7 separate regions of the Homo sapiens genome follow, and regions 1, 2, 4, 5, 6 and 7 are each reported to be linked to region 3. The links are microRNA targets in miRTarBase. Many come from high-throughput screens and were not tested one by one. Region 3 holds a microRNA gene; each other region holds the end of a gene's coding sequence. Distances are from middle to middle.
The links. The annotated mature microRNA hsa-miR-548f-3p reads AAAAACUGUAAUUACUUUU and lies in region 3 at 1,233-1,251, opposite strand. An mRNA with a match to its seed (bases 2 to 7 or 8) in the 3' UTR can be bound and repressed. Matches are read on the target gene's strand: a 7mer-m8 pairs with bases 2 to 8, a 7mer-A1 pairs with bases 2 to 7 and ends in A, and an 8mer does both.

Region 1: the mRNA of CERK is a reported target of hsa-miR-548f-3p. Seed matches in the 3' UTR shown: 7mer-A1 at 1,398-1,404 and 7mer-A1 at 1,330-1,336.
Region 2: miRTarBase lists RSF1 as a target of hsa-miR-548f-3p. Seed matches in the 3' UTR shown: 7mer-A1 at 2,351-2,357.
Region 4: miRTarBase lists ILDR1 as a target of hsa-miR-548f-3p. Seed matches in the 3' UTR shown: 7mer-m8 at 316-322, 7mer-A1 at 715-721 and 7mer-m8 at 1,054-1,060.
Region 5: the mRNA of LARP1 is a reported target of hsa-miR-548f-3p. Seed matches in the 3' UTR shown: 7mer-A1 at 3,315-3,321.
Region 6: the mRNA of CD226 is a reported target of hsa-miR-548f-3p. Seed matches in the 3' UTR shown: 7mer-A1 at 553-559 and 7mer-m8 at 376-382.
Region 7: miRTarBase lists ZFP36L1 as a target of hsa-miR-548f-3p. Seed matches in the 3' UTR shown: 8mer at 2,333-2,340.

What each region holds. Positions count from the first base shown.
Region 1 is chr22:46,683,327-46,687,394 of GRCh38, forward strand. It overlaps CERK (ceramide kinase), which reads right to left. Exons shown (of 13, transcript NM_022766.6): 13 at 1,084-3,880. The coding sequence ends at 3,808. Among named protein-coding and RNA genes, the nearest start is that of CERK, 53 kb to the right of the region's middle. RefSeq lists an enhancer at 204-705 and a silencer at 2,986-3,280.
Region 2 is chr11:77,663,452-77,667,519 of GRCh38, forward strand. RSF1 (remodeling and spacing factor 1) reads right to left here. Exons shown (of 16, transcript NM_016578.4): 16 at 1-4,040. The coding sequence ends at 3,466. Among named protein-coding and RNA genes, the nearest start is that of CLNS1A, 28 kb to the left of the region's middle.
Region 3 is chr5:110,512,612-110,516,679 of GRCh38, forward strand. MIR548F3 (microRNA 548f-3) reads right to left here and starts at 1,304; the gene lies at 1,218-1,304. The region is part of intron 12 of TMEM232 (transmembrane protein 232); the gene reads right to left.
Region 4 is chr3:121,984,519-121,988,578 of GRCh38, reverse strand. It overlaps ILDR1 (immunoglobulin like domain containing receptor 1), which reads left to right. Exons shown (of 8, transcript NM_001199799.2): 8 at 171-1,256. The coding sequence ends at 212. LOC101927010 (a long non-coding RNA gene) reads right to left here and starts at 400. Exons shown (of 2, transcript XR_241555.5): 1 at 1-400.
Region 5 is chr5:154,813,644-154,817,711 of GRCh38, reverse strand. It overlaps LARP1 (La ribonucleoprotein 1, translational regulator), which reads right to left. Exons shown (of 19, transcript NM_033551.3): 19 at 107-3,825. The coding sequence ends at 3,616. Among named protein-coding and RNA genes, the nearest start is that of MIR378H, 14 kb to the left of the region's middle.
Region 6 is chr18:69,861,023-69,865,090 of GRCh38, forward strand. CD226 (CD226 molecule) reads right to left here. Exons shown (of 6, transcript NM_001303618.2): 6 at 1-3,417. The coding sequence ends at 3,292. Among named protein-coding and RNA genes, the nearest start is that of CD226, 85 kb to the right of the region's middle. RefSeq lists an enhancer at 3,804-3,873.
Region 7 is chr14:68,785,868-68,789,935 of GRCh38, forward strand. ZFP36L1 (ZFP36 ring finger protein like 1) reads right to left here. Exons shown (of 2, transcript NM_004926.4): 2 at 1,795-4,068. The coding sequence ends at 3,666. Among named protein-coding and RNA genes, the nearest start is that of ZFP36L1, 5.2 kb to the right of the region's middle. RefSeq lists silencers at 249-318, 339-388 and enhancers at 665-959, 1,249-1,428, 3,861-3,920, 3,931-4,010.

The DNA.
Region 1 (4,068 bases), not on the chromosome of region 3:
GAGGATTGCTTGAGCCCGGGAGTTCGAGACCAGCCTGGGTAACAGAGTGAGACCCCTGTCTCTACAAAAAATTTTAACAAAATAGCCAGGCATGGTGTTGCACGCCTGTAGTCCCAGTTACTCAGGAGGCTGAGGTGGGATTGCTTCAGTCTGAGAGATTGAAGTTACAGTGAGCCGTGATCACGCCACTGTACCCCAGCCTGAGCAACTGAATAAGACCTTGTTTAAAACAAGGTTAAAAACAAACAAAAGTCAAGTTTTAGGAATAAATCTAAAAATTTAAAGACTTTCATGGAAAAAATTATAAAATAATTAAAAGACATGAATGAGGATCTTTCATGGACCAGAAAAGTCAGTTTCACAATGCAAATGTCCTTTCGAAGTTCCTCAAATACAAATGCAAATGCCCTCTCAAACATGTGGAGTGGGCCGGGCGCAGTGGCTCACGCCTGTAATCCCAGCACTTTGGGAGGTCGAGGCTGGTGGATCACGAGGCCAGGAGCTCGAGACCATCCTGGCTAACACAGTGAAACCCCGTCTCTACTAAATATACAAAAAATTAGCTGGGCGTGGTGGCGGGCACCTGTAGTACCAGCTACTCCGGAGGCTGAGGCAGGAGAATGGCGTGAACCCAGGAGGCGAGCTTGCAGTGAGCCAAGATTGTAGTGAGCCGAGATTGCGCCACTGCACTCCAGCCTGGGTGACAGAGCGAAACTCCGTCTCAAAATAAATAAATAAATAAAAATAGACATGTGGAGTGAAAGAAGCAAGTTACAGAAAACAACACGTTTCCTTTGGATAAGGAGCAAAACCTGCAAAACTAAACTCGCTGTTGCAGATACAGCCATGGACAGAGGCAGGAAGGGATGCGCTTGGCGTGACCTCGTAGCGCCCTCCCAGGGGGAGCGGGGGGACTCCAGAGCAGGGCACAGAAGGCTTCGGGGCGGCGTTCAGTTGCCTGGCATAGGTGGTGGTGACACCTTGCTTCATTTTATTCTTGTTCTTTAAATTGTGTGTGTTTTCATGAAAAATATTCTGCTTTGAAAATAACAGGTATGTGTAAAGGAAAGAAAGCAAGCCAAGTCTGCCCAAGTAACTTTATTCGTGTCTTCTCAAACATTTCAGATCAAATAATGCCATTTTCTAATCTTGAAACCAGCAAGATTAGAAAGAGAATGAGGCCATCCTTTCACTCAGACTTTCCCAGTTACTCAAGATTGTATTCAGGAACGAAGTCAAACTCGGCCTCACTTCTTAATTAGAATAAACTAGAATCAGGTCCATTGCATAACTGCTAATTGTTTTGCACCAGGGAGCCACAAAGGAAGCTAAAACTAGCCTTTCTAAGTTATCCTAAGTTTTTACTATCTAACCAGCACTTCTGATTTTTTTTCCCTTAAAACTCTAAAGTACAGGTGTTGTATGTCTGCCGCATCTGAAAGGCTGCCCCGGAAATCAGAGCCTATCTAGCGGGAATGTCTGGGCAGTCACCCCCATCCTGCGCGCAGATAGCAAAGGGCTGCTGGCAGGTGTCAGACACACGGTACCGCAACAGCAGTCCCGAGGTCTGAGATTCTGAATGTCAGCAGGTGGCTGGAGAGTATCACCAGAGCCACTCAGGAACCAGCCATGCGGAATGGCTGGGTTTCTTATTGAACATGAAATGCTTCCTCTTTGGCCTGGACTGTTTTGCTAAAATTGTTAGTGGGTTTTGGGGCAGGCCAGTGTATGGGAAACTTTTTTTTTTGTTGGGGGGGGCGATGGAGTCTCCCTCTGTTTGCCCAGGCTGGAGTGCAGTGGCGCAATCTTGGCTCACCGCAACCTCCACCTCTTTCTTGGGTTCAAGCGATTCTCCTGCCTCAGCATCCCTAGTAGCTGAGATTACAGGCGTGCGCCAACAAGACTGGCTAAGTTGTGTATTTTTAGTAGAGACGAGGTTTCACCATGTTGGGCAGGCTGATCTCAAACTCCTGACCTTAGGTGATCCACCCGCCTCGGCCTCCCAAAGTGCTGGGATTACAGGCGTGAGCCACCGCGCCCAGCCGGGAAACATTTACCAGGGACAATAAAGGCTTAGAAGAACCTTTTGGGGAAACTTTGTGAGGAGCACAATTCCAGAGGGCCCACAGCAGCCACAGCCTCCTGGCGTGACACCAGGCACACTGCCGGCTGCACAGGTTGCTGGGCACAGGCAGGCACAGCCAGTCTGGAAGAGCAGCCCGTCTTAAATCTTTGGTTTCTTTCCAACCAGGAGCAAACATTGGTAGAAAGAGCCAGGGCATATTTACTCTTTACACCCAGAATTTTCATTCATTATTGAACCATTTGGCTTGCACAGTGCTCTCTGATAATGTGGTCCATAAAAACCACCATTAAAGCTGCCCTTTCACCTGATCTGGGTGGGGCTAAACGAGGAAACGAGAAGTTTCCTGTATGCTTCAAAATATAAATCAATGCCAGGAAATTCTGAAAATGGATGCTGCCTGTTAAACATGAAATCACTAAGGGAGCTTCTGCAAAACCCACCCGGCAGCATGAGGAACGGTGTCTACAGCGTGCTCCAAACGGCCACGGCCCCGCTCCTTACAGATCAAAGTTTAAGCCGCATATTCTCATATTTCAAACAAAACTACGTTACAGACATCATCTACGTGGGCACGGATACACACTAAACAAGGACGTAGTACACAATTGAGGGGTGCCCCGGGGAGCGCGGCAGGAATGCCTTCCGGGAAGAATCCTCTGGTCGCCGGAGCCCTCGCGCTGCAGAGGAAACCAGCGATCCATCGTGGCTTCGAGGCAAAAGACAGACATCCGAGACGCAGTTTACACTACTCTGGCTTAAAAGGACAAGATGTTCAATAAATATAGAGAACTCAGTGTGAAGAAAAGACAAGGACAAATCTGGACCACGTGTACAGACTTCAGGCCCTGCCTCAGAGGAGTCCTGCGGGAGTCCAGGACCGGCCCCTCCTCCACGGATGGCCAGCTTCCTCCTGACTGCCCCCAAGCCCGGCTGTGTTAAGCACTTCGCGTCGATATAAAGCATTGGTATTTGACATTTTAACAGTAACAAACTTGCCAGTGCTTTACACACTGCCAGCTTCCAGAGCTTATCATCCGTGCTCCCAGAACAGACGCCAAGGTCATGCTCCCAGCCGGATTGTCGTAGCCTCGCCGCCGTGATGAGGCAGGTGTGGAGGCCCCAGCAGCCTTCCCGGCGCTGGCGTGGAGGCCCCTCCCGCGGATCACCTGAAGCAGGGCCACGTTGCATTGCAGTTGCACAGTATTGTAAGGATCAAGCAGCGATGTCCTAACCGTAAACGAAGAGGAAGGTGAAATGAAGGCAAAGAGAATCAACCACTTCCCAAAACTTGGCCACAAACCGTTACAGAATAAGTCCTGCAAAGTGGATCAAAGTGACCCACTGCTACCTCAGGCCCAGATGGTGTGACCTGCGTGGAAATCATATAATGTCCCTAACATTATTGCAATAGAGCCACTAACGGGCCATTTTCTAAACTACACTGTTGACATCGTTAAAACCTAAGAGGCCAGTGCCCCCAAGTGAGCAGCTGCATCCGCTGAGAGTAAGCGGCGTGGGCTGCAACCCGCAGATGCGTACAGAACTGAAAATGCCAAATATGTACACAAAATTGTTGACAAAAGGGTTTTCTTCTAAAATCAAGATTTAACTATCAAAAATAAATTTCTACATTTAAATGTATATATCAACATAATTGGTCTGTAATAATTATCTTAAATAGTTTTCACACTTTCCCAGTTTGTGAGCAGGACGCCGGCTTCTCAGCTGTGTGAGTCTGGCTTCGGATTCTCTTCAATTCCTCGTGCAAAGAGTCGAACCAGCTGGCAGTGGACTCTGCAGAGACAAGCGGCCACGTGTAAACCCCACGTGTCCCTCACTCAAAGCTGGCCTGAGCCCCACTCCTGGACAGGGGCTGCAGTAAACCCCACGTGTCCCTCACTCAAAGCTGGCCCTGAGCACCGCTCTTGGACAGGGGCTGAAGTGGGGGTCCATCCCCCATGGAACGGTCAGACGTCACCGTG
Region 2 (4,068 bases), not on the chromosome of region 3:
TTTAAAAATTATTTTTCAAAAGCTTCATTAGCATTTAAAGTTTTTGGTTCTTGGGCAGGTCACTTTTATATATAGATTGCCAGTAGACATGAATTTATTCTAAATGAAACTACCCTTTATCCTCTGAATCTGTAACCTTGACCAATTGAAAAAAGGATGTCAAGGAAATATAACTTGATGTACATTCTTGAAAATATCTCTGCCATCATTTTGCAGTAATGTGCCAATGATGGAAAATGTTTTACACTAATTTCATCAGCACTGATGTACAAAACCAAAACGTTTTCAGTCTGCGTCCTTTTCACACATATTTCAGTTCAAAGCTTCTGCTGTGTGAAAAGCTGACTAGTTTTCAAACCTTTTCAGAAATTGCAAACTAAATATACTGAATATTAATCTACATCTCCCTTTAATACATTAGCTACAGTCTAGAGTTTGACACTGGGAGTCCAACTTGTATTTCAACAAGGGGGGTTTAAATTATTAAAGGGCTCTATTATGTAGCAGCTATTTTGAGTCTAAATCCATGGTTAGTGCTCTAAAAAAGATCCAAGACTGTCTAAACTCTACATCAATTACTGCTTTCCTATACTTTCTGCAGTTCGTAGTGACTGTATTGTCTTTGTATACAGAACATTTCGTTTTCTAAAATTTTTTAACTTCTTCAGAATACCTTCAGAGTGTATTTCAGTGATCATAAACTCTTTGAGGGACTGAATCTGAACTCCAAGCAGCAAAACCGTTTTTGCACTGCTCAAAATTTAATAATCAATAATCTATCTGCCTAATAATGTTTTATCAACCGCTTGGATTACATTCTTGGTAGATGACCTATAGTTAATTGATTTAATCAAAATATAAGGTGAGAAGGGGTACATTCACTATCAAGTTGACGAACACTTATTCAAGTTTGGTAAATATCAGGCAGCACAGCACAAGTGGTCTCCAAACCTAAATGGAATACTCAGTCTTTGAGATGGTAAGAATTACCTTAGGCTTTCTATAGTAGAAGAGTAAAAATAACTCCTTATTTCACATTAGGCATCCTGTTAAAATTATCTACCCATTTAATACTACTTCTGATCACTTGGCTTAACTGAGGAATAGAATAGGTGGAAGAAGGAGCTGGTGTGTCCAGAGGTAGAGACAGGGCACATGGGAGAGTTTCCACACAATAGTGGCTTTACCCAGCTGCAGGACTAAAACGGTAGTGAGACTGGGTGGCAGGAAAGGGCACTTGTATATTCAAACCACTTACCTTGCACTAGTAGAAATCTTTATATTGCTTGCCTGTTTTAGATGGTTTAAAAGGTTAATTCTTAGCTGACTTGCAAATAAATAAAACAAACCTAGCTGGAAAGGAGACTGTTAAGTAAATGTAGCTCCTTACACAGCCCTGCTTTACTGTCTGTGAATGTAAGCCCTTCCCTCCCTTCCAGTGGAACACTGTCTCAAAATAAAAATCACAACTTACTTGGAACCACATGCTATTGGTGCATCCTATTTTTAGGTTGCTTTCATTATTTTATTTTTTATACAGATACATACACATTGCTAGAATCAAAGCAAAAATATTAATGGGCAGGTACTACAGAACTAAAGTGAAACAAAACAAAACAACGAACAACTGAAAAACAATAGCTATAAACTTTCAAGGCCAAAAGATAAGATTTAAGGGCAATACCTGTTGAAGAAGGAAAAGGAGTATAAAGTTCCTAGAGAGGTATTTATAATGCAAATCTAATGCCAGCTTTTTAGTAATAAAAAAGAGAAGTGCTTTACTATACACTGACTAGCACATAATACTTAATTTGGAAAGAAAAATTAATGACGTTCCTTGGGCCAGCAGCAGATATGGTGTGTCCATTGCCGGCAACAGACACAACACCGGAACAGAAAAACCCAAATCCCAGGGCTAAAGTATTCACAGAAGTAATGGTTGAAGGTTTCAGGATTTAACAGGCTAGGTTTAATCACAAGTGCTACACTCTGTACAATGTTATGGCTCTGCCTGAAATTTTACAGCTATAACAGAAACTAAATAAGACAAAGTTCATATTTTAGTGTCAATTACATGTTAGGTATTTAGTTAGTTACAAACCCTTTTTTCTTGAAACAAAGGGCTTTTCTTTAAAGTGTTGAGATGTTTGAAATGGATGTCATGCCTATTAATTACATCGGCAGTTCTCATTCAACTCTATGTTGGTTGTATGACTATTAATGAATTTTAATAGAAGTCTAATGGCCAAAGGCCAAAACTACATTCAAACTCTGCTAATATATCCAGGCAGATAGGAAATTCCAACACACACACACACGCACACGCACACACACAAACACACACACACGCTAAAACTCAAACTAAAAACCTCCCAAAGGAACTGCTTTGTTTGTAGACTTCAATTTGAAGTAGATACTAAGGGCAAGAATAGACCAGTTAAAATTCACCTGAAAATCTCTTCCCAGTCTTCAAATGTGCTAAAATATCACTGTCAGCTTAGCATCTCTTCATGTATGTTATATATAGATGTATTTTTTTCAAAATGATATTTCAGATATTTAAACATCAAGTGGCCAGAAGACAAGAGTTATACTATTGGCAAAGTTTACAGTCCACCCAGGCCTTAAGAAAGACCACATTCATTTCACTAATAACTCTCCATCAGACACAATATATTTGAGGCCACCTTATTACCACTGCATAAAGCTTATTTAAAAAAATTTGTTGCTAGCACAGTCTGGTTGGCAAAGCTTCATTATACATTTTACTGTACAAATGCTTTTCAGATGATTTTATTTTTTTTTAAACAAGAAACTCTGCTATAACAAAAATTTAGGTTAATTATGATGGTACTTTCACTGTCTCTTCTTTATTAAGTGTGGTTATCTCCAATAGTAAACAAGTTCATTTCACAAAGGCTGTTACTAAATGACTTATGTATGATGTTATCTACAATTCTCAAACTGTAACAGTACAGACTTGAACTTTTAAATTGTCTGTAAATCATCATCTATGCCATGAATGTTTAAATATAATATATATTTAATATGAAAAAGCTAAAGCACAAGTGCTTTCACCCACCCCTAAATTCTGTTTTGGGCCCTCACAGATTCGGAATGCATTTTCATCCACCCTTTTTCACAAAGTCAGGAGAGCTCAGGAAATATAAAGTCAAAAATATACAAATCTTTGTTGTTATTATAATAAGATTTTTTTCCATGAATGAAATTACCAAGGACCATGAACCTGGAAAAAGAAAATCAAAAGGAATTTACAGCAATTATTTATCTTCAAAGTTCAGAACTGGTCACTTCACAGAAAGACTTCAGGATTTGTTGAAATTTTTCTTCTAAAAGTCATTCTGTAGTGGAGTTTTCTAGGAAAAATTAAACAGCTTTTAATAACTGGCCCGCTGGTGTGAGAGCTACCGTGGAATAAATTAGCACAAAAATGGAAAAAAAGTCTTATAACTGTTCACTGTTACAGACATAATCAACAAGGTCAGTCACTCTCAAAAGCTCATCTTCCTCCTCTTCTGGTGCTCCTGCCTCCTGCCCACCACTTGTCCCATTGGAGGCTAGGCTTGCACTGGCTGTGCTGTTGTCCTTGGGGGTCTGAGACTTCTCAGTAGGCTTGCCAATCAAGTTCTCAATGGCTTTGCCAGGGCTCTGTCCATTGGTTGAAGGTAAGTCCACTAAGCTATAGTCCAATGGGCTCCCCACTTTGCCTACATTTTCAAAGTCCTCTTCCTCATCACTTTCTATCCGGTAGGGCTTCTTGGTGCTCTCTTGTTCTGAGGGCAGGACCCTAGGCTGGCTGTCACGGGCAGGCTGATTTGCATCTCCATGAGCATTGTCACAACTCTCCTCCTCATCCGTCTCAATCCGGTGTAGCCGTTTGCGGGATGGTTTGCCTTCCTCTTCCTCCTCCTCCTCATCTGCTTCTGAATACTCGTCTGTGCTTCGGCCCCGCTTTCGAACTGACCGCTTTGATTCTTTAGCTAGCTCATCATCTTCAGAGTTCTTGGACAAATAGCTCTCTAGAATAAACAGCACATTTAAGCCATT
Region 3 (4,068 bases):
AAAACATCTGCCCTGGATACGAACGCTTCAGGAAGTTTACATTCTAATTAAGCAGTTAATGCATGTTTATTAACTACTGTAAAAATATTTCATCATAAGCTCAACAATCCCCCTTTCTTTGAAAGAGCAAAGAGCACACAAAAAACAAAACACAAAACAAAAACATGTAGATCTTGTTTTTGTTTTCTGTTGTATTATTTTTATCTTCCCAAAGTGCTGTCATTTTAATTCTAACTGATCTGTATTTGAAATATAGAATACTTTTAAATCTCACCAAGATCATTTTAATACCTGTGTTATTTTTAAGATTCTTTATCACATCATGTTACTATGAATGGAGAAGTCCTAGGGTTGATGATTGTATTAAAGAAAGACACTCGTCATATAAGCATAAAGCTATGGCAGTGAAAGTGGAAGCTAAAGCTATTGCCCCATTGATGACACCCATAATTCCTGCTCAGACCAAGGTTCTGTTTCACCAATGGAAAGACAGGAAAGGAGGGAAGATGTAACAGATAGATAGATAGAAATTGATTTATCTCCAAGGCAAGTTTGCAGATAAACTGAGTTATATATTACAAACCGATGTACGAAGCATAGTTCTGGCATTAAGAGTTGGATTCAACCTCTAAGCTTCCAATAGCACTTCAATGTCAACAAAAGCAAAAATGAACAAGTGGAATTAAACTAAAAACAAAACTTCTGCAAAGTCAAGGAAACAATCAACAGAGTGAAGAGATAAGCTATGGAATGGCAGAAAATAACTGGAAACCATATATTCAGTAAGTGGTTAATATTTAAAATATGTAAGAAACTCATACAACTTAATATCAAATAAAACCAAACAAGAACAAAACACAAGAACACCAAAAAAGGGGAAAAAACCCAAGTAACCCAAGTAAAAAGTCAACAAAGGAACTGAATAGACATTTTTCCAAGGAAATCACACAAATGGCCAACAGACAAGTATACGAAAATGTTCACAACATCACTAATCATCAGGGAAATGCAAATCAAAACTACAGGTATTAACTCATACTTGTCAAGATGCATATTAAAAAAGACAAAATACAAAAGATAAGTGTTGATGGGGATATGGAGAAAAGGGAATGCTTATACATTATTGGTGAAAATGTAACTTGGTATGTCTACTATGAAAAATAGTATGGAAGTTCCTCAATAAATTAGAAATAGAACTACCATATGATACGGCAATTGTATTAGGTTGGTGCAAAAGTAATTACAGTTTTTGCAATTACTTAAAAAAACTGCAAAAATTGCAATTAGGTTTGCACCAACCTAATATTTTGAGTACATATTCAGAAGAAATAAAATCAGTATGCCAAAAATATCTGCACTCCCAATCTCTGGGCATTTTAACACTTTAAGTAACTGATCTAAGCCAATGATCCAACCCATTTATTTAAACTCAATTATTTCACAAAGGCTCAATAAATAGAAGCCCATCTCTGAAGAACCATTCAATGTTCTTTATTTCTGTGCAGCTAACAACTGTGACCAGCAATGCTGACAATCAACATTTTCTTTCATACTATGTCTTATCACCATACCCCCGAAATACATGTCTGGCATAGTCAAAACCAGAAATGAATTGCTTTTTAATTAAATAACTAGAAGCAGGAAGGGAAACATAAAATAACCAAAAAGGAAATCATCATGAACCCGTATGTTCTCTTGAAAAGTTGCCAGCAGCAATTCATAGCTTAAAAAAAAGCACAAAAATGTAAACCTTCCACTTATTATTTATCACAATCTTACTAAGAATTAAATATTATATTCTAAAGAAAATAAATATTTTAGAACATCTAGTAAATTATGGAACAAAAGGATAAGGAACTGACATGTCCAGGCTCTTTATCTACCTTCTTTTTCTATATCCTCAGGACAAAGCTTAGAGCAATGTATAGCTTTTTAATTTTTAAAGATCAGAAGCCTAAGGCTCAGAGAAGTTAAGTAACTTACTTTAAATCAATCAGAAAAAAAACCTATAAAATAAGCATATTTCACATAGTCTGAAGGAGGCACAGACTTTTTACATTTTTTTTCCTTCATGAAACAGAACAAGACAGATTGGTTTAAGACATTTTACTTAGGCATCCTAGGGGCACGGTCAAGCCCAGACAATATTAAGTTAAGAGGCCAAGTCTATTTTGGGGGCCCTCTTCTATTTAAACTCTCTCTATATGTACTTACTAGACTTACTAGAAAGTGACTCTTCTTTGATATAAATTTCCTAAAATTAAGTAGAGAGGTTCAAGGCCTAGAAAAAATAAGTTCACTAATGAAAATCAAGTTCTAAAAATCATACGGCAGAAATTGAAAAAGAATTGTTTGAACATATTTTTAAACAATTGCTCAAGGCTTAGGTATCAGATAAAGTTCATATGAGGGAGAAGAAAACAGCACAGTGAACACAAGAGTCAGAATGCCTTTGTTTAAATTCAAATTTCTGAACTTATGGTTGCAAATCCTTGGACTAATTAACCTCATCAAAACTCAATATCCATGTCTATAAATGAAGGAAATAATCATAACTCCATCTAAGGGTAGTACTTCACATAGTGCCTTGCTTATAAAATGCACTCATGTGGTGTGGCAAACAAAATTGATCATCTTGGATTGTCTGGCAAAATGCTACCTAGAACTGAGGGTCTTAAGAATCTCCCACTTTGTGGAGTTTCTTCTCCTAAACCCAACTTCCCAATGATTCAATGCTTTCTTTACAACCATTAAGAGCACCTCTTAAGGCCTCCAGGTTCTGGGCAGCTGGCATTTCCATCATCCCGTCCCTTAGATGATACCTAACTGATTCATGATGGTTTGATAACTGAGCCAAAAACATTTCTCCACTGAAAAGGAGTTTACACTCTTATAAGAAGGTAGAGTAGCAGTCAGGCACTATCCCTTTGAAATACAAACCCAATGAATGTCCAAATGCTTCCCCAAACTCCAGCACCCCTAATCAATGGGATAATTCAAAATGTAAACCATGTACTTCTTTCTGCTAACGGTTGACTTCTAAGCCTCTCCAGTAAAGCCTATTCTTAACCTATTTCATGGGGCATTATAGCACTTACCTTTCCCATCTTTGCACCATTCAGTAAATGTTAGCTACTCCTGCTTCTACTACTACGGCACCAGCTCCTTTTATAAAGGAAGCTGCAGAGGAGGAGCACTAGCCTTGGGTATGCCCTTCCTGTAAAGTCAGCTGTGTAAAATCTTCTGCCTAAATGACAACAAATGTTCTCAGTTCATTCTTACTAGCACTACCTGGGCTTTCTTCCAGGTGCTAGTTTGATGAATATTCTTTAACATAAAAATTTGAGGCCGGGCACGGTGGCTCACGCCTGTAATCCCAGCACTTTGGGAGGCCAGGGCGGGCGGATCACGAGGTCAGGAGGTCGAGACCATCCTGGCTAACACGGTGAAACCCAGTCCCTACTAAAAACACAAAAAATTACCCGGGCGTGGTGGCAGGCACCTGTAGTCCCAGCTACTCAGGAGGCTGACGCAGGAGAACGGCGTGAACCTGGGAGGCGGAGCTTGCAGTGAGCCGAGATCGCGCCACTGCACTTCAGCCTGGGCAACAGAGGAAGACTCTGTCCCCCGCAGCCCAAAAAAAAAATTTTTTTTGAACAAACTAAGCATGAATAAAGTTTTGTTAATGTTCTCCTAGTCTTTATACATATGCAAATAATTAGTTGTTTATAAGATTTTAGAGATTCGAGGCATAAGCTTAGAAAATACACTTATGAGAAACCTCAGAAGTAACAAAGTATAGATGTGGGAATTGGGTTTTTAAAATTTGATCTTCATAGTTCTAAATTCTCAGCCTTAAGGTAAACTTGAGATCGTTTTACTGACAAATAGAGAAAAGAGAAATACTATGCTTTGAAGTAGAACTATTACATACCTATTTTTTTGGTCTACAACTTTTATGATAAAGAACCATAATGATTTTTTCATATTTTTAAAAAAATGCTGAGGGGCAAAAAGAGCATGCATCCAACAACATGTTCCACCAGCTTAAAGAAAAGTAAAAAACAT
Region 4 (4,060 bases), not on the chromosome of region 3:
GAGAGATTGGTTTCATGAAGAGTAAAGAAATACTTTTTAGGTTCAGATCTGCTGTCCTGGCAGCCACCACCCACTTAGGATTTGTAAATCAAGAGCACATTATGTGTTACATGCATAGACGGATTGCACTGACTGGATTTTTTTTGTGTGTGTATTCTTCTATTTCCCAGGAGAAAGACAGCTCTCATAGTGGAAGGAGTGTGGTCATTTAGTCACCAAGCACAGCACAACTTCTGTGGCTACTTCTCGGCTCCTGTGTGTCATCAGCATCACCTAGGTTTCCAGCTGACTTGGGAACTGCAAGTCTGAGTCTAACAGTTTTTGGCTTAGATTCTGAGAATCAAATAGAAGAATTTTAAATACAAGAGTTTGAGATTGGGTATAGTGGCTCACACCTGTAATCACAGCACTTTGGGAGGCTAAGAATCACTTGAGACTAGGAGTTCAAGATCAGCCTGGGAAACATAGTGAGACCCCGTCTCTACAAAAAATATAAAAATTAGTTAGGTGTGGTGGCATGCACTTGTAGTCCCAGCTACTCAAGAGGCTGAGGCAGAAGGATCCCTTGAGCCCAGGAGTGCAAGGCTGCAATGAGCCAGGATCCCATGATCACACATCTGTATTCCAGCCTGGGCAATAGAGCAAGTCCCCATTACTAAAAAACCCAAAAGGCCAAAAAACAAAAAAGTTAGAGTTCGAGGAATTACCAACTGTAGTTTTAGCCTTGGTTCATGCTCTCTTGCATATTTATATAATCTCTGACTTGTAATGGACCCTGACTGGAATGTGATCCCTCAGGAACTTAGTAGCCTGAGTCTTTCAGTAGACTACACTGCCCAGAACCCTGGCCATTCTCAAAATGAGAACTTGGGAATGTTTAAGAAGAAATCAAACATGTTTCAGGAAAAGGAAATCTATGGAGTATTATAGGGACATTCCCATGGGAATGTATCTTCCTCCATGGCATGTCTTGAGGGTCCTTTCTTGTTAGGAGTTTATCCTGCCAGCCCATAAATGGACTATTTATTGTAAGTGTAGAAAATCACAGAGAAGCAGTTTTGCACCAGCCTTATTCCTGTGCCTTGTTTTCCTCTTGCTCTTTTTTTACCTGTATATCTAATTTATATTTTCATATATATTGTGTATTGATTGAAGTCACTTTAAATCCTTCTTGGGAATGACACAGTATATAAATAAGGAAGAAAGAAAACATGCCAAGCTGAGCATGCTGCTCCAAATAAATATCTGCTTTCCTACTTTGGTGCATTTGATTGGATTAAGCCACCTTCACCACTAAAGTTCAGAGAAGACCCCGACCAACCTAGGGAGTTCTGGAGCTACCATTCTCCTGGCACTACTCAGCCTTTCAGAGTTGAGATTTCCCAAGCAGAAGCATCCAGGCAGGTCTTGCCACTCAGAGGGCCCCAGGAAGAAAGGACTGTATTTTCACTATAATAGGCTCTACCACCCCCTCCCATTTTTCGAAGCCCCTTTGGAGGCTTCATGAATCCATCTGTGCTTGACGGAGAGATCCACACTGAGCAGATTGGAAGGAGGTGGCCTGAGTGAAGGAGAGTATGTGTGTATGTTCTTTAACAGTATATCCTTACGTGCTCACTTTAGATCCCATTTATTGACACATCCATTTTCCCCCAGTCTCATTAATTTAATTACATGTGGAGAAAATAGGTTAAATTTCTGCATTAGGTAGACTTCTCTGGGATTTTTTGATTATTCATATTTAATTGGATCTAAATTAGCGAAAATATATATATATTTACAGATAATGTAGACGTAACATTCAGTAGGTGAGAGACTTCTGGTCTGGACAAGATGGCATTGTCCCATTTCCCCTGCTATGCCCTGCTAAGCACAACTTAATAAATTTTGGAAATGGTACAAGAGAAAACCAAAGGATTCTAAAGGGTGTTAAGAAGAAAGCAGGTTGGTTTGAAAACCCAGGACCAGAAGAACAGCACAGAGGCAGGGCATTTTATATCCCCCTATCAGAAGGTATTTCCTGACTTTCCATCTAGCAGCAGAAGGTAGCCCAGTAGCTCATTCTTCCCCCTGAACCTAATGGAGTCCCTCTGGCAACCTCAGGCAAGGGGACTGATTGAGAGTCCTACAAAAAAATAAGTGGACTGATTGAGAGGCCTACAAAAAAAATAAGTGACCAGGGGAAGCACCCTTATTCCCTGCTGGGTCAGAAACTCCTCTTTTCCAAGAAAAGATACTGAGGTGGACAGGAGGAGCTAGTAAGAGAAACCTAGGAAAAATAGGTGGTCCAGTTGGGGAAGCCTTTTTGCACAGGCCTAAGACTGTCCTCTCCTGCCCAGAGATACTAGGATTGGCTGGTAGAACCAGGAAAAGGGACCTGTCACAGACGACATCTCTGAAGCCAGCAACCTGGTCACAGAAGCCACGATGTGGAAGCAAGACTCTCCTCCCAGGCCCAGAGAAATCTGGGCAGCTAGAGGCATCTGCAGGATTTATCATAGCCCACCCTCACCAAGAGACACTTGGCAACCCAGCCAGGGAAATTCCTCCTGCCCTTTCAGGCAGCAGTAACAGAGACCAGTGGGAGCCCTACATAAACCAAGCAACTAAAATAACACTGCAAGGGCTCTGAAAATTAAGCTGCCATTAGAATTACAGCCCACAAAAGTAGGCTAAAACTGTATGCTAAACCTAAACAGAGTGATTCCTTGCAAAACAAAATATTTAAATAGAAATCAGTCTCCTAACATAATAGGCAAAATGTTCAGAGTGCAAATCAAGAAACAATAAAATCACAACTTGAGTGAAAAAGGAAATCAATGGATTCCAGCATTGAGATGAACCAGATATTGGAAATTATCTGATAAGAATTTTAAAGCAGACATCATAAAAATGCTACAACAATCAATTACAAATTCTCTTGAAACATGAAAAAACAGAAAAACCTCAGAAAAATAGAAATAGAAGTTTTATCAAAAGGAAACATGAAAATTATAGAACTGAAAAATACAAAAACTGAAAACTCACTGGATAGGCTTAATGGTACAGTAGAGATGATGGGGGATAAAAATCTGTGAACTTGAGGACAGAACAATAGAATTTACCCAATCTGAACAATAGAGAGAAAATAAACCGGAAAAAATAAACAGACCTCAGGGACCTATGGAACAATAACAAAATATCCAGCATTCATATTATCGGAGTAACAGAAAGTAAAGGAGAAAAAGGGTAGACATGAATATTTGAAAAAATAAGGCTGAAAACATTCCAAATTAGATAGAAGACACTAACTTAGAGATTCAAGAAGCCGGATGAATCCCACAGAAGAAAAAAAAAATCCATGCCCAGGCACATTATAATTTTTTGAAAACTAAAAACAAAGTCCTGGAAGCAGCAAGTGAGAAACAGTGCATTACTTGTAGGGGAACACCAATTTGAATGGATTTCTTATCTGAAACCATAAATAAGGAAGTGGCCAAATATTTTTTAAGGGATGAAAGAAAAGAATCATCTCCTATAATTCTAGATCTAGCAAAATTATCTTTTGAAAACAAACAAAACATTCTTAGAAATGAAGGGATTATAAAAACATTAACAGATGAATGAAAACTAAAAGATTTTGTGACTAGCCAATCTACCCATAAAAGACTAGCTAAAGGAAGTTCTTCAAATTATAAAAGAAGGAAACTTAGAACATCAGGAAGGAAGAAGAAACAATAGAGCAGAAATACTGGTTCATACAATAGACAATTTTTTCCTTATGGGTTTTAGAGAATATATTTTATGTTTGAAACAAAAATTGTAACACCATCTGATACTTAAAACAATGATATTTAAAGGTGGGGAAGCCAAAGAGACCTGAATGGAAGTGAGGTTTCCACACTTCATTTGAAGTGGTGAATATTGATACCAGTACATTGTTATAAGTAGCATGTGTAACACCCAGAGCAACCACTATGAAAACTATACAAAGTGACAAACTCAGAAGTATTACAAATAAATCAAGATGGAATCTAAAACATGTTTAAATAAGCTGCAGAAAGGCAAGAAAGATAAATAA
Region 5 (4,068 bases), 44 Mb from region 3:
TTCATGTGCACATTGAGTGCAGGGTTCCTCCGGATCTGGGGGAACTCTACCAGAAACCCATCCTTCACACCCAATAGCAGTAACCTAGATGGAAGACCAGCCAGTATTTTGCCTTTTCAAGTGTTTATTTTTATACATTTTTTTGTATTAAAAAGAAAAGCATAATTACCACAAATTACAAAGGACTAAAGCAGGACTAGAATAATGAATGAATCACTTCAGCCTGGAAAGCAGATACTCTCAATAATATTAATGTTATAATACAAGCTCATTCAAGTATTTTACATTTTTTTGTCCTTTTAAATATGATATCCTAGCACATAGTAAAGATAATGTACTACGAGCGTAAGGTGGAACCTTCTCCGCAAAGCCAGATGACAAGTTTTCCTCTCCAGTGAGAAATGGGCTCCAAGTTCTTATCTTCTCTGCCATCAGCATGGCTGAAGGGGGAGAGGGTGGGTGTTAGGGAAAATCCAGGGACCCTTCCACACAGGAGGTACTCTGGGGTTCCATTCAGGAGGGTGCCAGATAATTCAGATCACTCTACCCAGGCTTTTTGGCAAAAAACAACCCTCACCCTCCGTAACTAGTCATCTTCCTTGTCCCTCCTCCTCACTTCCCTTCCAGGGCCTTCTAAGCAGCTTACTTTCTTTTGTAAAATCAATCACCAGGAAAGGGGAAAAAAAAAAAAAAAGAGCTACAATGGAACAAAACAAAAACATTTAACAACTTTGACACAGGGGCTCAGCACCTCTATCTGAGCCCCAGGGGTCCAGGCTGGGGCACGGCTGGATGGCCCTTCTCTACTGGTAGTGCCTTTGCTCCCAAGTGCAGGAAGAGGGCTAAAGAGAAACCTGCCCCTTAACAGGGCTGAGGCACACAGACCTGCTGATGTCTGATGCCCAGAGGTTATGTTGGCATGGACCAACCTTGGAAGGGATAGGATGAACAGAGGGATCTGGGCAGGCTGTTGCTTTATCTCAGGTCTTGGATCCCCATGGGACGATGGTAGGTGTGAAGTGGTTAGCCCTGATGGCCCCTGCCACTTCTGGCATGCTTGTCACAGATACATCGGTCCTAAATTCAAGTGTCTTCAGAAAGTGAAGATGTAAACTACTCTTTGCAACATTAACTCCTAACATGTTACCAAAAACAAAAACAAAAACAAAAACAAAAAAAAAGGAAAGAAAAGAAAAAGCTCCCCTACCAACCACCAGCCGATGTTGAGATGAAGTCCTCACCTCCCTGCCCCAAAGGGGCTTCCTTTCAGGGATGTCTGTGAAGAAGATGGCAGCCCCCTGGCCTGGGAGTAAACTCTAGGTAATAACAGCCTTTCCCCATACCCTAAGGCTTCCTTGTGCCCCAAACCAGCAGAGGAAAAACACTGAGGTTTCTGTGGTGCTGGATACAGTACAGGGCTGCGTGACCTGAAGGAAAGAAAGGAAAGGAGAAGGGGGTCCAGGAATCCAGTGTCCGGTACAATGTGGGGCAGGCACCAGACTGGGCAGGGAAAGGCCTCGGATACCACCATCATAGCAGAGACCAGACGCTCATCCTTGGTTTGAGACATGAAGTCACAGGAACTGAGATGGGCTTCCCACATACCAACCACTGGGAGGGCAAAGGTGGGGAAGGGCACAGGCTAAAAATTAACAAGGTGCCCAAGGTAAAGGGCAAGCCCTTGTCAGCCTGGGATACTGTCTCCTACTCCCAACCTTTGGGCCCAACAGAGGAACCAGTTGAAAAGGAGGGCCAAAGACATTGCAGTAAGTAAGCAACAGGACAATGAACTCCATGTTGCCCAGATCCCACTGAGAGTGAACGTGCAGTCATGCCCATAACCGACACACATCCCAGTCCATGTGGGTCAGTCCTTCATCACCCTCCCTGCCTTCTGACAACAGCAGACTCCAGCCATTCCATTATCATTCACAGCCCAACCCAAGCAGTCAGTGGCTGAAGAAAGAGAATCAGGTATACTCTATGTCCACATATACCTTCCTGCCACAGGGCTTCACCAACTGGCAGGATTCCCCCCAGCCCCCAACTCCTCCTCATCCCTTGTTCCCAGGCGGGTCAATTGGAGAGTGAGCAGAGATAGATGGCTTGCAGAAGGGTATGCAAGATGGGGAGACTCCACCAGACCTTAGGGAGAGAATGGCATCTTTCTCCACCTTTTAAGAGAGACAGAGCCTCCCTGAGGTCTCAAAGATTTTTCAGGGCAACACAAGAAACGTTTCCAAGCCTCAGCTGCAGGTGTTCACCTTTCCACTCTGGGGTGTGAGGAGATGGTAAGCTGAGGACAAGTGTGTTCCAGATGCAGGCCAACTCTGTTCTCCAACAGTTTGAACCAACTTGGCCTTGGGGTTCCAAGGGTAGGATGAAGGGTGTCACGGCAGGACGGGGCCTGGCGTGAGGCAACAGCAAGCAGAGCGAGGACACAACAGTGGCAGCAGTGTACAGACACAGGACGTCAGCTTCAAACGATGCAACAGCAGGGATATCTTGGGCACGGCTCTGATTCGAGCCACTCCCAACTCTCTTGCCTCCAGGATGGAGGCACTGTACATGCAACAGTCCAGAGAAAGATTCTAGCCAGTCCAAGCCCAGGCACATCCAGAGAAGGTGGGAGCTCTTCGGGTTGACTCCACCGAGGAAAACAGGCATTTGGGTATTTCAGATTCCCGCTCCACAATAAGGCAACTTTTAAAAAAATATTATTTCCAAAAACAAAACAAAAATTCCAAGGGGAGGGGAAAGACATTACTTTCTGTGGATTAGGTGGGGGTTTTCTGATTTTTTTTTTTTTTTTGGTCTTTTATGGTCGATTTTGTCTTTTTTCTTCTTTTTTCCCCATTTTTTCAAGGATGGAAAGGTCAGAGAAAAATAAAATAAAACATCTTTCAATAGTCTTTCCTGGTAAAAGCAGCGTCTCTCTGGGCTGGGGAGTAAAGGGTGTGGGGCAAGGGGAGTGGGGAGAGGCTGAAACCTTCCCCCAAACCCCAGTTTTAGATCCTTTGGTTTCCTTCTCCCAGAAGATGGCAGAAGGGCATGGTGGGAACAGCAGGGAGAAAATATGGTGATGACAAACCCCAGATGATCAAGGGGCTGATGCTCCTGGGGCCCAGAGGTACCACCAGAGCCTTCTATGAGACAGTGCTGGGCAATGGGGGGGCCCGCAGGGCCTTCTTGTGGGCTGCATAGTTGGCTTGAGGGGGAGCAGGAGGTTAGGGGTGGGGACCAGGGTTGCAGCCTACTAGCCTCGGGCAGGGCTGCAGAGTGATTTTGGTAATCCAGATGAACTATCAATAATTTAAAACTTGATATATATATATGTATATATATATAAAAATCTCCCCCCTTTCCCTCCCCCCTTAGAAGAAGCTAGGATGTCAAGAGTCATGGAGAGAGGAGGGGGAAGGGGATGTAGAGGCTCCTGCCCAGGGGTACCTCTGATAGCCCAAATGGTGTATACATTGCTACTCAGCACAAAGGCCTGTCCTAGTAACTCCAGGCCTGTCCCTTCATTGTCCCCTTTCCTGGGACTGGGCACCCCCATGGACTCTTACCCACCCTACCCCTTTCCCCCCTCAAGCCCCAGGGCTAAGGAGCTTTTCACTTTCCCAAAGTCTGTGTGTTCGAGTGCTGGCTTGTCCATTTGGCATCTTCCCGGACAGGCTGGCCGGTGGGTGGTGTAGGGGGTTGGCTGATCATGGCAGCAGGCCTGCTGGAAGACTGGGAGGGGCACCGCTTCCTGCCCTCACCGCCGCCACCTCCTGCTACCACTGAGTGTCGCTTGTGGTTGCCCTCCTCACCCATGGGGGGCTGCAACAGAGGAAGGAGTCACAGGTGATCAGAAGCACTATCTACGCCCTCTTCCTTGCCAGGCCCGTCTAGACACTTCCTACTTTCTACCTCCAAATATAGAAAATGAATGGGTTTAACCTTAAAAATAAATTATAAGTTATTAAGCGTTTCTTCATGCCAAGCCTTGTGCTGTTTTATGCACACTCTCTCATGGGGTCAGCATCACCCTTTGATGTGGACCCATGGACATCTGATTTTATA
Region 6 (4,068 bases), not on the chromosome of region 3:
AGCTGTAATTTTTACTTAATGCCATTCTATACAAACCAATATAACTTGGATGTTCACAATCCACGAATGCCTACTAAAAGTATTTTTACTTACTTTGTCTTTTAAATTGATAACCCATGTATTTTAAGTTTATATATATAGTATTTTAGTAATACACTGAATTACTTAAAACATAAATTGGAGTTTTTACTAAAAATTATATCTTCACCTACCTGCCTCCCATTTTAAGCATGATTACAAGTAAATGAAATTTCTATTTTATTTTCTCAACATATTATACCTAAAGTTCTTTAAATAAAGTTTGAAGGTATCTCTTATAATAATATAGTCAATGCATAGTCATCATAGTTCAATAAGATGTGTTCTTTCCCTGACAAAACTGTGTACTCCATTAACAAGTCTTCCTATCTTATTATAACAAAGTAATTTCCTTTCATTGGTTACTTTAACATAAATATTAATGGCATTCAAAGGAAGCATAGATTCTTAATGTATTATCCATCGATATAAATTATATGTGTATATATATATGTATATATATATATATATATGTAAAACTTAAGAAGCATTTTGCTTCCAAAGCAGCAACTTGTAAAAAGTATCTGTATTTAAAATAGAATTTACTGGAATTCTGATCGTTTATTCTGTGGATCTGTTTTTCATCTGCTTTCTTAGTAACAATCAGAATCATAGGTGCAAAAGAGTAGAGGGGGAGAAACATACACTAGGGAGAGTCCCAAAACTATCACGAATTAAGAATGATGTTAAAAAGATGACAATGAAAGTGCTTTGGTAAGTAAAGATGTCCAGAGAAAGAAAATGAATGAATGGAATTTCACAAGCATTACCCCTGAGGGTATAACAGGAGCATCAGAAGACGTCAGAGAATTTTTGGGAGGACTTCAGATGGCTCCAAATTCCTGAAAAAACCCTACACTCTGTAGAGGAAGAATATATAGAGAAGAAAGGACAGAGTAAATAGTTCTCATCAATATTTTGAATGAGAGACCAAAAACACAAACACACACAAGGAAAAAGAGACAAGTTCCAAATGTTCTGGAGGCTTTGCAATACTGCAGTGGTTTGCTACAAAAGTCTTTCATGAAGTTCCCAGTAAAAACCACCATGACAATGGTATCTGACTATACTGTCCCTTCCACACCCAGTCATAATTTTCTCTCTTAAAATTGGATTTATATTTCCCCATACTACAACTGTAAAAATGTTTTCCTGCTCACATACACTAATCATTGAGAATTTGGTTATTGGAGTTTTCCAGAAAGTAATATTTTGATTGTCTTTACCATTCAGAAAAGAAATTATTTACCTTTTAATTGATGCTAAGCTTGCTTCACCATGCAAACCAATAAATTCACTCACAGAATCTTTGATTGATCTGATAGTAGAGTGCTTTCTTGTAAACTGCCTTTCAAGTTTGTTACACTAATATATTTGTGGAAACATTTCATGAATCCAGGTATAAAAAGATCTTTAAGCAAACATAATAAAAATGAGAGTTTACCCTTCTTGCATATACTTAAGCACAACCAGGAAATGGTCGTTTTTATTTTTTCACTCCTGAAAAGGGTTAAAAGAAACTCACAAATTTTATAATTCACAGAAATGTGGGCACTTACCATTTCTGTAATTCACAAAACAAGTGCATTATTTGGCATACATGGTGTTTAAGGCTAAAATCATAAAATACTCACTAATTAGCTTAAAAGTGTAAATTACATCTTAGAATCTGTCTAGGCAACAGGAGAATTTGGATTTGCTTTATTTAAGATTATCATGAAGTCCACAACTTTGATATTTAAATACAGCCTTCATAATGAATCTTTTCTAGATGGTGGTCTTTAGAAATCTTTAGAGATAAATAATGAATCTTTTAGACATGAATGATCACTATATTTAACAATAACCATTGTCCTTTCAAGGTAACCATGACAGTTTTATTCAGTTTGGCAAATACTTTTCATTGTTAGCCTACATCTAGAATTTAAACAATATTAGGTATGGTCTCTAATTGCTTTGACTGTTGGTGATGTCATTAGGGCTGTCTTTGTCTGAATAGTGAAGCAGAAGTTTCCCTTTGTATTTTTCTGTGGTTTGATTCCTTTCTCCTGTTGCCTGTACCCTCCCAATTTCTTTTTTCCCTCCCAAATTTCTACCCTACCGTCCTATGCCACCACTTTCAACTGTCACTTTTAGTGGTATATTATATTCAACTTTCACATAATCATTAAAAAATAATAACTAGGTGCCTGACCCTTTTGAGAGAATTTACATATTAAAAATAATTCTCAAAAGTAGACAAAATATGTCCAAAACATTAAGTTATTTATTATTCGACTATCTACTACATTTGCTCCTAAGGCTAGACCTGGGATGGCGGCAAGAATTCTATACAGAATGAGAGATAAATAAATATGAGAATAGTAAAGGATTGCCCTCTCGCATTTATCTTCCTCTTGAATATTCATTTCTTCTACTGCCAGGTATTCTTCTGGACTATGCTGATAGAGTGGATTCTAGAAGTATGGACAGAGATACCCCATTTCTAGAATCCATCCCATATTTCACTTTTTAGTTAACAAAAATGTCTTGGTTAATCACTGCAGTCAATATTTGTTGGTAAACTCTCCAGCTTTGAGACTCCCCTTTCCTCTTCTAACCATGCTCTGAATTGCCCAGTATTGTGCTTTGACCCTGCTTCTCAGCTCTAGAAGTGAACCCTTAGTTTACTTAAGCCATTCCATCCTTTCTGGTCATGTTGCCTATTTAACAATGAAAAAATAATCAAATTTGTTTGCTCCATTTGAGAAGCAAACTCTCTACCAGACAGAAACAAGGATGTATGAATTGCCAAGAGTTGGCAGCCATCTTGCCAACACAAGAGGAAAGCCTGCATGAGAGTGAGGCCAAGACCAGGGAAATGGATCCAACACTCTGGAAAGGGATTCAGAAGCCAGTTTATGCCCATACTTAATTCTAGACACAACATTTAAGCCCTGGTAAATAGCCCTTGCCCAAAGCTTAATCTCCCCTGGATCATTCTGTTATATGATACAGTAAGTTTTCTTTTGTATATAAACCAGTTAGAGTCAGGTTTTCTGAAACAGTTCTATGAAAAATGATTTTAGGTAATGAAGTATTTTTCCTATCAAAGTAACTCAATTCAGACAACTAGTATCTAAGGTAGACCTTGGGTAGTGGAAAAAAATTGCATAAAGATCCATGCATGAGTACATAAGAGTCATTACTAATGCACTCATGTCAAGAATAAGCTTAAACTCTAGTCTTTGGTCTGCGAGAGAAGGTTGGATAGTTGACATAAATATCCTCTCTTGTATCATCCATGGATTGATTGGTAGGTTGACTGGTAGAGATGGGACTTCTATAGTTATTGGGTGCCTAGAAAGACAAACAGCAGAGAGTGTCAATAATTCACTGCATTTCAACAACTAATGAAGACATTCAAAACATACCTCTCATAAATGCAGGCATGATATGGGACAAGTTTCCATTATAATTAATTTGATAAAACATTCTCATTGTATTGAACTTCTGTTGGAAATCATATTCTTGACTGAGATGCAACAGAAATCTAGTCTAGATTAATACTTGCTGTATTGTGCTATGAATTACCTGTTTCAATGTAGAACTCCCTCTCCCAATGTTAAGCTATTTTGATAAGAACAATTACTATCATTTTTATATGGAAATTCTAACACAGTGTCTGAACTTTAAAAAATAAGCAACTTAACATATAAAAAGTTAACAAAACTGACATCAAGATGATATTGTATAATCATTAATCTTCTCTACCGTAATCAAGTCACTTTGACCACATATGTATGTATGTAACAGAAAATATGCAGGTGTGAAAAAAGAAAGACAAATTAAGAGACAAAAGAAACTAGAGAAAGGTCTTTTGATGAGTAATTTAAAAATTTAGATTGACCTTAGTGTTGTTGGTTTTTTTGAGTCAGAGTCTCGCTCTGTTGCCCAAGCTGGAGTGCAGTGGCGCAATCTAGGCTCACTGCAACCCCCACCTCCCAGGTT
Region 7 (4,068 bases), not on the chromosome of region 3:
CCCTTTCCCAAGGGCCATCTCCTCTAACTTTAAGGACTCAATGGGACACAACCAGGCTCTTGTGGCCACCACACATGGGCCTGGGTTACCTAAATCCCAGCCTGAGTGAGTTCCCCAGGGAGACACTTAGGTAGAGGTAAAGGGTTAAGACCCGGGGACATGGAGCTTCCCCACATGATAAGGAGTCTCCCCTGGGCTTTACAGCCAACCCCCACCCTCCAGGGCCTCCAGTAGTCAATGTCTCTATCTTGGTTAGACAAAGTCAAAGGACTGACTCAGTCAAAGGACTGTCTCCTCTAGAGGAAATTCAGGGCTGGCCAGGAGGTACGCCTGGGCCTCTAGGAACCTAACCAGCGTCACCATGAGAGGGGAAGTTAGAAAGGTGTCTGCCACATGCTCAGGTATGCCTGCAGGGAATGAGCTCAAGGTGAATGATTAAATGTCTTTTTTGCTTTTACTCCGAAAGGAAGATCACATGCCACCACCAACCACCACCACCACCACCTCCACACACACACAAAGTTCATTTCCTCCTTAAGGGACAAGAGGCCTAGGTTTACTCCAGTCCTAAGAAGGGCTGCTTTTCCCCTTCCTAAACCACCAGCCCCTGCCCTGGAACAGGTAATAGTCCCTATTTTTCTACCTCACCCCCTGACCCCCAGTAGATATCTGATGACCAGGGAAATGAGTTGAGAGTAGAGGTAGGTCTTCGAGTCTCAGGGACATCCCTGGCCTGCCCAATGTCTGCTGCAGACCTTCGGAAGAGGCCTGGTGGAATCATGGTGACTCAGCTGAACTCCCAAAACTTCCTGGGTGTAAAGGAACCAAAGGCAAGTGAGCTGCAAATAGCAATCTCTGCCTCTCCCCAAATAAATCCTCCCAAGGCTCACACTCAAGATTTGTGAAAGTTCCAACTCCTCCGGCGGGTGAAATGCCACCTCTTAAGTGGTCATCTAGCCTTGGTGGGGGTGCATCTAGCCAAGGAGACCCCACCTTTCCCAAGATGACGACATACCTAATTTTGCATAGCACCTGAGATTGTAACTAAGGTGGTGGGAACCCTTGGTGACTTGCTGTGTTGTGTTGGCCAGTGTTAACACTCACTTCCCCTTAACAGCCCTCCAAACCCAAAAGGCTATGTCAAATCCAGTCCCAGTTCCCAGTTCCTTGTGACTGAGCCCCTCACCCCGCTGGACATTCCTCTCCAAGCAGGCAGTGCTTCCTTATACCCTCCCCACACGGGTAGGTGTTGAGAGGCCAGTACTGAGGTAAATTTCTTTCTTATGGGCAAAATGAGCCCAAGGCACCCCAATAAAAGAACTCACTCAAATCCAAGCCTGCAAGTGTGCCAAGTGCTAGGTCCTCTTTTATCATTTTGGCACCCCAAACACCATCCAAAGGAATGAAGAGCACAGGCTGGACGGGGCGGACTGGAAGGCCCTGAGCCTTGGCTCCCCAGAAGAACCGCAGAGGCCACACAAGTGTCGGCAAGGCTGGGCCCGCTGCTATTCAGCCAACAACTAACACACTGCACAGTCTTTTCAGAAGTAATACAGCAGGAAGTACAGGCTCCTTTGCAGAAAACCTCCACCCCGTCCCCTCTAAGCGCAGCAAACTGCCAGCATCAAGGAAGGGAGCTATAGGCTTAGCTTATAGGGATGAGAGATGCCGCCACCCACAGCCACAGCCCTCTCTCTCCGCCTCCCCCTACCCAGGACTTGCAAGGTATACAAGGGGAGAACCTTACTGGCAAAGTCAAACCAAAACCAAGTAAAACCAGCTCCACCATCAATGTTTCTTGAAAAAACGGGGTTTATTGATTTTTAAACTGCAAATAGTCGTTACAAAAAGTTTTTTTTTCTTTTAAATAAATTCACACAAAGAAAGAGAAATAGAAAGCGACGGTAGTGACCAGCAAGAGGAATAATAATTACATTCATCTTAATGTGTGTGTGCCAGTTCTGTTTACATTAACATTGGAAAACTCCAGACCTGGAATCCAGAACCTCAAATCTGTGAGTGGAATGTCTTGAGATGGGCACGTGGAAGTCAAAGGGTTTCTCTTTTTTTTTTTTTCCCCTTTTAGAAGCTATACATAAAAAGTTGTTTTCCTTCTGTACTGTCACAGAACTTTTACATACATTCTCAGTCCTAGTTGTGAAAGGCCTAAAGAGAAAGAAACTCAATTTGCAGTCCAACACAAAGGGGGGAATTTCTAAAATAAATAATCCAACAGTTTTTTGCATTTTTTTAAATTAATTTTTCATTTTTTTAAAATAAAATAACCAAAAAAGTGTAAAGTTACAAAAAATGTCGTTGAAGAATAATATATTAAAACTGTGGAAAAAAAGGAAAAAGACACGTCACAAAATTTTAAGATTAATATGAAGATCATAATTTAACATAAAAGAATATATTCTATGGATTTGTCATCCCGATAAATATGAACAAAATTAACAAAAAAAAGCATAGTTTGGCAATAAATACGTTTTGATAAGTTAAATAAGCTTTTTTATATTGATGTGCAGTGACAAGCAAAATTTTTGCTCTCCAATTTCTGAAAGTTATATGAAGTTTAAAACCCAGGGAAGAAAGCATGGCGTGAGTGCTCTAAGGATAGACCTACGGTATTCTAGAGCAAAAACCATTAAAGCTACTTCTACAGGAAATCGTTTTACACAGATATTGTATGTGGAATGAATACCATTAACTGCTCACCCCTTACTTTTTTTTTTTTAGCTTTTCTCTCATTTTTTTTTTGTTGTTATTTTTTTTAAAAAGATGTCACATATGAACTGGGGAACTTTAGCACCAAAATCAAGTCTCTCCTAGTCCATCTAGCTTCCCCTTCCTCCCCACTTAAAAAAAAGAAAAAATTAAATCACAAAGTCCCACTTAAGTCAAAATCTTCGTCCGCTTTTTCAGCCTTCCTTCCTGCAGACCTACACAAACCCAGGCAAGATTAGTCAACAGGGGTTCAGATCGGGAAGAAAAAGGTTTTGAATGTCAAGACAGGTTTCCCCCAAAACCCTGGTCTGGCAACAACTCTTCCAAGGGGCAGGGGTGGGGGGGGTGGGGGGGCGGGTACAGGTGGAGAGGTGCCACCGGGAAGAGGGGAGGAGGAATAAGTGTGCGGGAGACTGAAATGAGGGAAGGTGCAGTTGTGTCGCCAGTGGAGGGGGCTGCTGGTTCCGGGTCTCCACCCCGCCATGGGCAGAGGCTCCGGGAGGCCCACGGGTGCCCTCTGGCGCTGAAGAGGTAATGTAGTCACAGTGACAAAGTTAGATTACAAGGCACTAAGTTGCTTCTGTAAACTGTTACTGCTTTTTCTCTTGTGATTTGGCACTTAAGGCTTAAGCCGGAAAAAAAAAGGCATCTACTGACAAAATATGGGACTTGTCTGTTATGCATGGTAAGTGGGCTATAAAATCCAGGGAGGGGGTTTCAAGCCAGAAGAAGCTACTGACAAATTGACTTGTCCTTATGTTAGGTGGGGTTATGAGGGGGAGAGGGAGGGCACATTCTGAGGTGCTGGGGGAAAGGGGTTGAGCTTAACCTTGTTAATGTAGGGCCTGTGGGGAATGGGATGGGTAGGGAGAAGAGGGTATGGGATGTGGGTGCAGGGTAGGGGCTGGAGTAGGCAGGAGGTCCCTCCCTACCCTGGCTTAGTCATCTGAGATGGAAAGTCTGCTGAAGATGGGCAGGCGTCTTGAGTTGTCCAAGGTCGGGGAGTCTGAGCCACTGTGGCTGCTGCTGGAGCTGCTCAGGTAGCCCTCCTGGTCCGAGAGAGAATCCTGAGGGCTGGGGGGAGAGTCAAACATGTGAGGGGACTCGGACATGGGCCGGAAGAGGAAGGTGGTCGGGGAGCCACCCCCGGGCAGCCCCATGCTAGGGGCAAAGAGGCTTGCCAGCTCCTGGCTGGAGAAGGCAAAAGGGTTATTGGTGCCATCGGGCAGGGTAGGTGAGCCCAGGAGGTCATCGGCGCTCAGAATAGGGGGTGGGGTGATGGACGTGGGGCTGTCCAGCAGCCCGGTGGCAGCGGCGGTGGCAGCGGCACTGGGAAACCCA